Homo sapiens: one gene and its partner. The protein of the gene in region 2 purifies or fractionates together with the protein of the main gene of each other region. This does not show direct contact. Each region holds a gene or a part of one and is shown on either strand. Other genes may lie near its edges.

Region 1 (3,654 bases), on a different chromosome or scaffold from region 2:
ATAAACATTCATATATAAATTTTTGTTTGGACCAGGCACAGTGGCTCATGCCTGTAATCTTAGCACTTTGGAAGGCTGAGGCGGATGGATCACTTGAGGCCAGGGGTTCAAGACAGCCTGGCCAACATGGCGAAACCATCTCTACTCAAGATACAACAATTAGCTGGGCGTGGTGGTGCACATCTGTAGTCCCAGCTACTCAGGAGGCTGAGGAACGAGAATCGCTTGAACCCAGGGGCAGAGGTTGCAGTGAGCCAAGACTGCACCACTGCACTCCAGCCTGGGCAACAGAGTAAGATCCTGTCTCAAAAATAAAAATAAATAAATAAATAAATTTTTGTTGGAATACTACTTTAAATTCTTTGGAATAGAAGAATACCTAGAAGTGGAATTGCTGGATCATATGGACAGTCTATGTTTAATTGTTTCAGGAAGCACCAATCTGCTTCCCACAGTGGCTTCACTGCTTTACATTCCCATCAGTAATGTGTGAGGGTTTCAATTTCTCCATATCCTTGTCAACATTTGTTATTTTCCTTTTTTTATTATGACCATCCAAGTGGGTATGGAGTGGTAACTCACTGTGAGCAGGTTCTTTCTTATAATACATTTAACTTTATACTTAAAAAAAAAAAAAAAAAAAAAACTTAACTATTTGCCCTTAAATTTTTCCTTTTATGCACTGCTTATCCTTTTGGATGGCCTTTGAAAAATCTACTTATTTATATATTACCTCAAATAAGTAATTTAATCTTCCTTTCATATGCTAAAACTATGACATGTTGTACTTCTAGCCAAGTGACAGAATAGGGTTCCTTTCCTACTAATTTTCTATAAAGTCACATAGTCTATACTATAGCATAGCAAGACCTTGTATTGAGGAAAATTCAGCAATCATCTTTTTAAATGCCCATTTTACACCTGACAGAGAAGGCATAATTTAAAGAATTTTAGTTTCATTCTTAGCTACACAACACTTTTCTCAAGTTTTGTTATATAAAAAGGGGGTATGGGGGAGGGATACATATATATCTGCTTTAAGGGCAAATCAGTTTCTTTATCAAACTTTTGCAATATTTAACCATACGTGCAAAATATATCTTTGAAATAGGTCCCAAGAGAATCAACTGAATTTTCTATTATAGTAATGTCTAATAAAATGTCAAATTTGATACATAACAGTCTATCAATTGACACACTGTTAAAGGTATCCCCACAACACATACTCTGCTTAGTATCAGGTTTCCAGAACTCCAGAAATTCCAGAATATTGTTTCTTATTAAACAATAAGGCCTGATGAGAAAGTAATTTAAGTACACCTTTTAAACCTTTTTCAAATTTTATATTATAGAAAATATATTTTGAGGAAAGAATCTAACATTGCAATTTCAGTTTTTTCAAATATTACATATTAAAATGTCTATAATGTCATAATTAGGGAAAAAGTTATTTTAAAATAAAAGGGAAAAATGAATACAAAGCAAATTTCTGTTACAATCATATGGAGGTTTAAGAACAGGACTTCTAGAGCATGACTTGCTCTGGAATAAATACTGGCATTACCATTCACTGGTTGTTTGACTTAGGCAGCAAATTATTTATCTATTCTGTGCCTGTTTTCTCAGCTGTAGAGGGTTTGATACACAACCACAAGGATTCAGGAAAAAGGAATGGACCAGGTTATGTACATTTTAAAAGTATCTTTGGGTATTCATGACCAATTATTAACTGCAATAGGGGATTTACAGATCTAACTTCTACAATCATAATTGTTATGTAGTTTCTGTATATAAACATGAAAAAATTACCAAAAAGTATGGAATTTTAAAAAATAAAAAGTATCCTGAATCATAGCAATTATGTTTTCTTACTTACTGGGTGATTTGCTGAGGCTTATCTTCTCCATAGGTTTTGCTAGTTTGGGTTTCTTGATAAAGGTTCCACTGGGCTTATTAAATGGCTGCATCATTTTTCTCTTTATTCCTCTTGCAGCAGCAACTGTCACATTGGTGGATTTGTTTTGATAGTCAACAACAATTCCGGGTCTATGAATGCTTCCAAAATCACCCATATGCTGTAAATTTGTGAAATCAATAAATATTAGCATATTGTCCAAGAAAAAATATGAATTCATATAAAATTTTCATGTTAACTATCTACTAATTTTCACCTGAAAATTCCCTGGAATGTAACTAAATTTTACATGTCCATTCTGAAAAAACACATTGAAAAACTCTGTAAATTATTACATAAACTCAAATCCATTGAATTAGTATTTTTATTTCCAGTAGAACAAATAATGAATATTTGCTAACTATGTTTTTACTTTTACATTTCAAAATTACTTGAGATTATAGACAACATATGTGCCTGTCCAAATGTTACCACTTGTACAACTCTCTGACAACTCCTCTTCAGAGTTCCTAATTGATGTTTTCCCATGAAAAGACCCTAAAAGAAATCTTTATTTTACTAAAACTAAGATACACAAAGAAGACCATATTTGTAGTTTGAAGTAAAAAAGATCCAGAAATCATTTAGTATTCTCCCTGTTGAAAAAGGGAATGAGAAGGCGAGATGGAACATTAGTATGAAATAGGAGAGTTAAAGCATAACCATGCATCAACTTCCAAGACACACTTCAGATAAAGAATTGCATCTGACGTTCCATTCACATTCTTACCTAGAGAAACATTTTCTGACCCAGAAGCCCAAGAAACAAAAGTTTACAGATGAAGAGTCATGCAACCAAACGACTCTTTGTGTCCCTTCCTCTTCTCTTGTCATTATCCAAATCTACTACACCAAGAGGCCACATGTCCACAGAAATTTATTCTGCTAATCTTACTTTTAGAAGATAAAGATGGAGGAGTAATCTGAAGAGAAGGACCCAAGGGGAATTGTACAAGTGAAGATTTAAAATGTAGGTCCTATTGGCTCATCTACTTCACTAACAGGAGGAAAGAAAGAAAAGTCCATTCAGACTAGAATGGTAAATACAAAGTACAGGAATACTTGTTTATTATGAAAACGAAATTTACTTTTGAAGCCTCATTAAGAAAACACACTTTGTCTAAAATAATATACAGCATGGAAAATATTAAGTGTTTTCCAAATTTTCAAACTAGAATGGATTTTCAATTCAAAACCCAAAGCCTATCATCCCAACTATTTTCAATTAACCTATGATCATGAAGTATAGTGGAACTGTAATGTATCAGTTGCTTACATTTGTATACTATGCTCAGGAATGCCTATCTAACCTAGTTGTGTTTCCAGGTAATTTAAAAAGTCACAACAGGAAAATCTTCCTTAATTACGCATTAAAGGTGCAATGCATTTTTACATAAGTAAAGAGTAACTGTTAAAAATGCAAAATTTCTACACAAGTATAACAAGCTACACTGACATATCAAAAGCTAATAACCAGTCAAAAACGTGTACCCTACTACCTTTTTTACTAGAAATACTTTCCTCTGCAAATAAAATATTAAGAGCAGCTGACTTAAAAGGATTCTTACATTATAACAAAAATACAATACTCTTTAAATGATCAAACTATATAATAACCCCACAATCTGCATACACTTACTAGGTAAATTTTCATGTCAATCAAGTGACCTAAGAACATAAAGCATAATGTTTACACTATG
Region 2 (3,654 bases):
CTGTACAACTTCAAATAAATACCAGCCTTACATTTTATTAAGTGCTCTGATAAAACACTGTAAAGTGAAGCACAATTTGCATGCCCTCTCATCAATGCCTTGGTTTGCTACAGTAGTATAGGAAAGAAGCATGTAGCTGCTGTTTTCCCTTGAGGGAAACCTTATTATTTTTTTTTAAGTATATACATGTATTTTATTTTTTAGTGTTTTTCTTTTTTTAAACGCAGAAGGTTAACTCTGGCAATCTAAATGCACCTAAGGATATGAGAAAGTGCTAAGCCAATTGATTTCTGAATAGCATTGAGTGGGTCAGCATGAAAACTCGCTTATTCACTTTAGCACGCGCCTCACAGTATATGTACTGTACTATACTGAAAAATTTTATAACTACAATTTTAAATAATAAAAAATAAAACTCAAAGCAACCGCAAAGATAATGTACAACTATGTTATGCATAGCACATTGCCTGTTCTAAGGGGAAGCATGTGAGCATCTCAGTTTATACAAAAAGCAGGACGTAACTATATAGTTCTCAGTGCATCCTGATGAAGGCATTTTTGCCTTCAGCTTTTTTGAAAATTTATTATAAGCTAGATGCTAATCAGAAAATATTTTGTATTTTTTAAAATTTCTTTCATACATGGTAAAGACTTATTTTATTATTTCCCCAAATAGTGGTTTTTAAGCATCATACAAAGTTAAATTTCAATAGCATACAGATATTTATGATTTTTGTATGAAAAATGTAAGGAAATTTGTTCAAAACCTATGGTTATACTCATTTTTTTATACCACAAACATATTTATAAACCAAAATGTAGCATCACCATAAACAGCTGAAGCTAGACTATCTACAGACAAAATTTGCAACAAATCTGATGCACTGTAAATTCAAGTCCTCAGGACAACAAAAGTGATTAAGCAAGACCTCAAGTAACAATGTTAATGCCATTTACAAAGGAAAAAACTGATACAAAAACATTCAAAACCTGAACATCACTTGGCATGTAAGGGAAAAAAAATTAAATTAGCTGAAAGGTTCATAAACACAAGGTCTTATTTACATTACACAAAGCTCAGGTGTTAGCCTTGAACGTAACTTTCAAAATACCTTCAAATATATCCAACTCAGATCACTTTTGCTGATTTGCTGCAGTACAAATCATGTGCAACGTCTTTTTTCCTTAAGACAAAACAATTCTTCAAACAATACTGCAAGTACATCACTAAACACCATGAGCTCTATCTGAAGGGATTTCTTTAGGAAGAACAGATTTTTTCCCCCATCTCTCGGTAATTTAAATTTCTTGCCTGCTCTTATATATTCTTTTGTAAATTTTTTTTATTTGTTTCAAAATCACAAATCAATGTGAGCCACCTATCACATAATAACCAGGATGATCAGACGCTCCACTGGTGATTACAAAAATGAAACCAGCAGTGTTTCCCCCCATTGATTCTACTCCTTTCATACAAAGATCTCAAAAGTATTTTCTACACCATAAATCTTTCTAAATTTTCCAACCGCTGCAAATTTCCTGGTAAATTTTAAAAGCTCACTAGGTGTCATATGAAGAGATTTCTCAAAGTATTCAAGTCAAAATATTTGTTCCAGGACCAGTAAAAAGTTTCTCCAAATTTTCTTTTTTATAAAAATAGATGCTTTTTTTAAACCCACATCAAAGAGGCTCTTATCTCTTTGGCAAGGTACTGCTTTACGAAAAGTTCTCCAGTATTCTTACAATAAGCGTTTATAATGTAGCCCCCCCTTCCCCAACCCAAATCATAATTACAAAATAAATACTGTTTTAAACTTCATAAATAAAAATGTAAACTTCAAAATACTTTTCTTAAACAGACATAACAGCAATGCTTTAAATGTAAACCAAACACAAAGCTAATCAGAAAAAGGAAAAAAAGGGGGGAAAAAAAAGACACAACCAACTGAAGAATTACAACACAAAGCCTCAATATTTACTCACAGGTTCAAGGCAGTTATGTAAAAAGAAAAGAAATGTCTTCCCTTAGCTGAAACACTTTAAAAGGTCCACCTTCTTCAAAGAAGGCAATAGAATGCAATGTGACAGGTAAAAACCCTGTACCTCTTGTCCATATTCAAACATAAAAGATATTTAAGAAGTTTTAATTCAAATACTAGCAATAAAAAATCTCACATATTTCTTAGGATGCTAAGTAGTCATTTTATCCCCATCTCAACACTGACTTACAAAGACATTTACTAATGTATAAAGTTTCTCTTAACTTGCCTTTGTTGTATAGTTTTCATATATAAATGGACTGAGGACAAGAGCTCATTAGGCTTTGTGCGTTTTGTTTGTCTTAAAGGAGACCTGCAGTACTCTGTCTCCCAGACGGTATCCATTGAGGCTAGCTATCGCCATGGCAGCCTCATCATAGTTTGTCATAGTCACAAATCCAAAACCTTTGCATTTATTGGTGTTAAAGTCACGGATGACCTTCACATTGGTGACAGCTCCAAAAGGCCCAAACATTTGCCACAGGATACTCTCATCTGCGTCAGGAGCCAGGTTGTACACAAATATACACCACCCTGTTCCAGGGTGCCCAGGGATATTAATTCCAGCCAAACTGGTCATTCCGTCAATGGTCATTGGAGAAAACCTGCTAAACAGAATAGGAAATACACACATACACACAAAAAATAAAAACAGAGGTTGGTTATAGCAATGAACGTATACCTTTTCCATCCCCAAGAATTTTAGTAACTCTCCTCCCCCAACAAATATATAAACTATTTCATGTTTTGACCAAGGTCTGTGTGTGGCTTTGCAGTGACATGCTAGACTACTGAGATATTAATAAGTTATGAAATGACCATTATTCACTGTACTGAATATCATCCACAATAGCAAAGAAATATATTTAGAACTGGCTTCATGAATTAAGCAGGATTGGCAGGGGAAGGGATCAACACATACGTAAACATGCTGTAACGTCGTAACGCAATACGAAACAAATGATGGGTTTTTAAAAGACCAGGTGGCATCCGGTGGTATAAAAATTTCTTGAGTCAATTGTGCTTCAAAGAGCAGCTTTTCATTAGGTTGCACATGCAAAATAAAACCCAACAAAAACTTATGAGGGGTGTGAATAGCACTCCCAAAATCAAAGAAACCAATCAACTGTGGAAAGGGATTATGAGTATCATGAACCTCTATCATTACCTCTTTACTCCATAAGCCATATTGAGCAGATTGTCCAACCTGCAAAACACACATTTAGCAAACTTCAGTTTTTAATTTTTCCCCTTGATGTTCAAGAAAGTTGGGCTCATTACTGCCATCTTCCGAGGGGATATCTGTACACTGATTATATGTGAAGACTCAGAATGCTGGGTCTTTTTACGTTTTTAAGCTAATGGGCACCGACTGCCACAGGACAGTTCTTCCAATGAATGGTTTCTCTCTACAAGGGTCAGTACATGGGACACAGTGACGGTCATCTGAGGATACCTTTCAGAGAGGAAGTGCGAAAGCTCTGGGATAGTTAACTTTAGGGTTCTCATCAGGTAGCTTCAAAGTGATCAATGTATAGCTACATGTTCTTTATACTACTTTTGATTTTCACAACTCTGTTGGTGCCTGCAGATACCTAAGGCACACAGGGTTTAA

Evidence for each region. Proteins that work in one complex are often made in the same cells at the same time.
Region 1: the proteins of ELAVL2 (region 2) and ZNF326 purify together in Homo sapiens (affinity purification with mass spectrometry; 2 studies listed by BioGRID and IntAct, with this or other methods). This does not show direct contact.

The regions. Positions count from the first base shown.
Region 1 is NC_000001.11:90,008,509-90,012,162, reverse strand, and holds part of ZNF326 (DBIRD complex subunit ZNF326), read right to left. Parts: intron 2,076-3,654; coding exon 1,877-2,075; intron 1-1,876. UniProt on the Homo sapiens protein: Core component of the DBIRD complex, a multiprotein complex that acts at the interface between core mRNP particles and RNA polymerase II (RNAPII) and integrates transcript elongation with the regulation of alternative splicing: the DBIRD complex affects local transcript elongation rates and alternative splicing of a large set of exons embedded in (A + T)-rich DNA regions.
Region 2 is NC_000009.12:23,690,241-23,693,894, forward strand, and holds part of ELAVL2 (ELAV-like protein 2), read right to left. Parts: intron 3,247-3,654; coding exon 3,208-3,246; intron 3,076-3,207; coding exon of another isoform or gene 3,054-3,075; exon of another isoform or gene 2,962-3,053; intron 2,648-2,961; coding exon of another isoform or gene 2,645-2,647; coding exon 2,317-2,644; 3' UTR 1-2,316.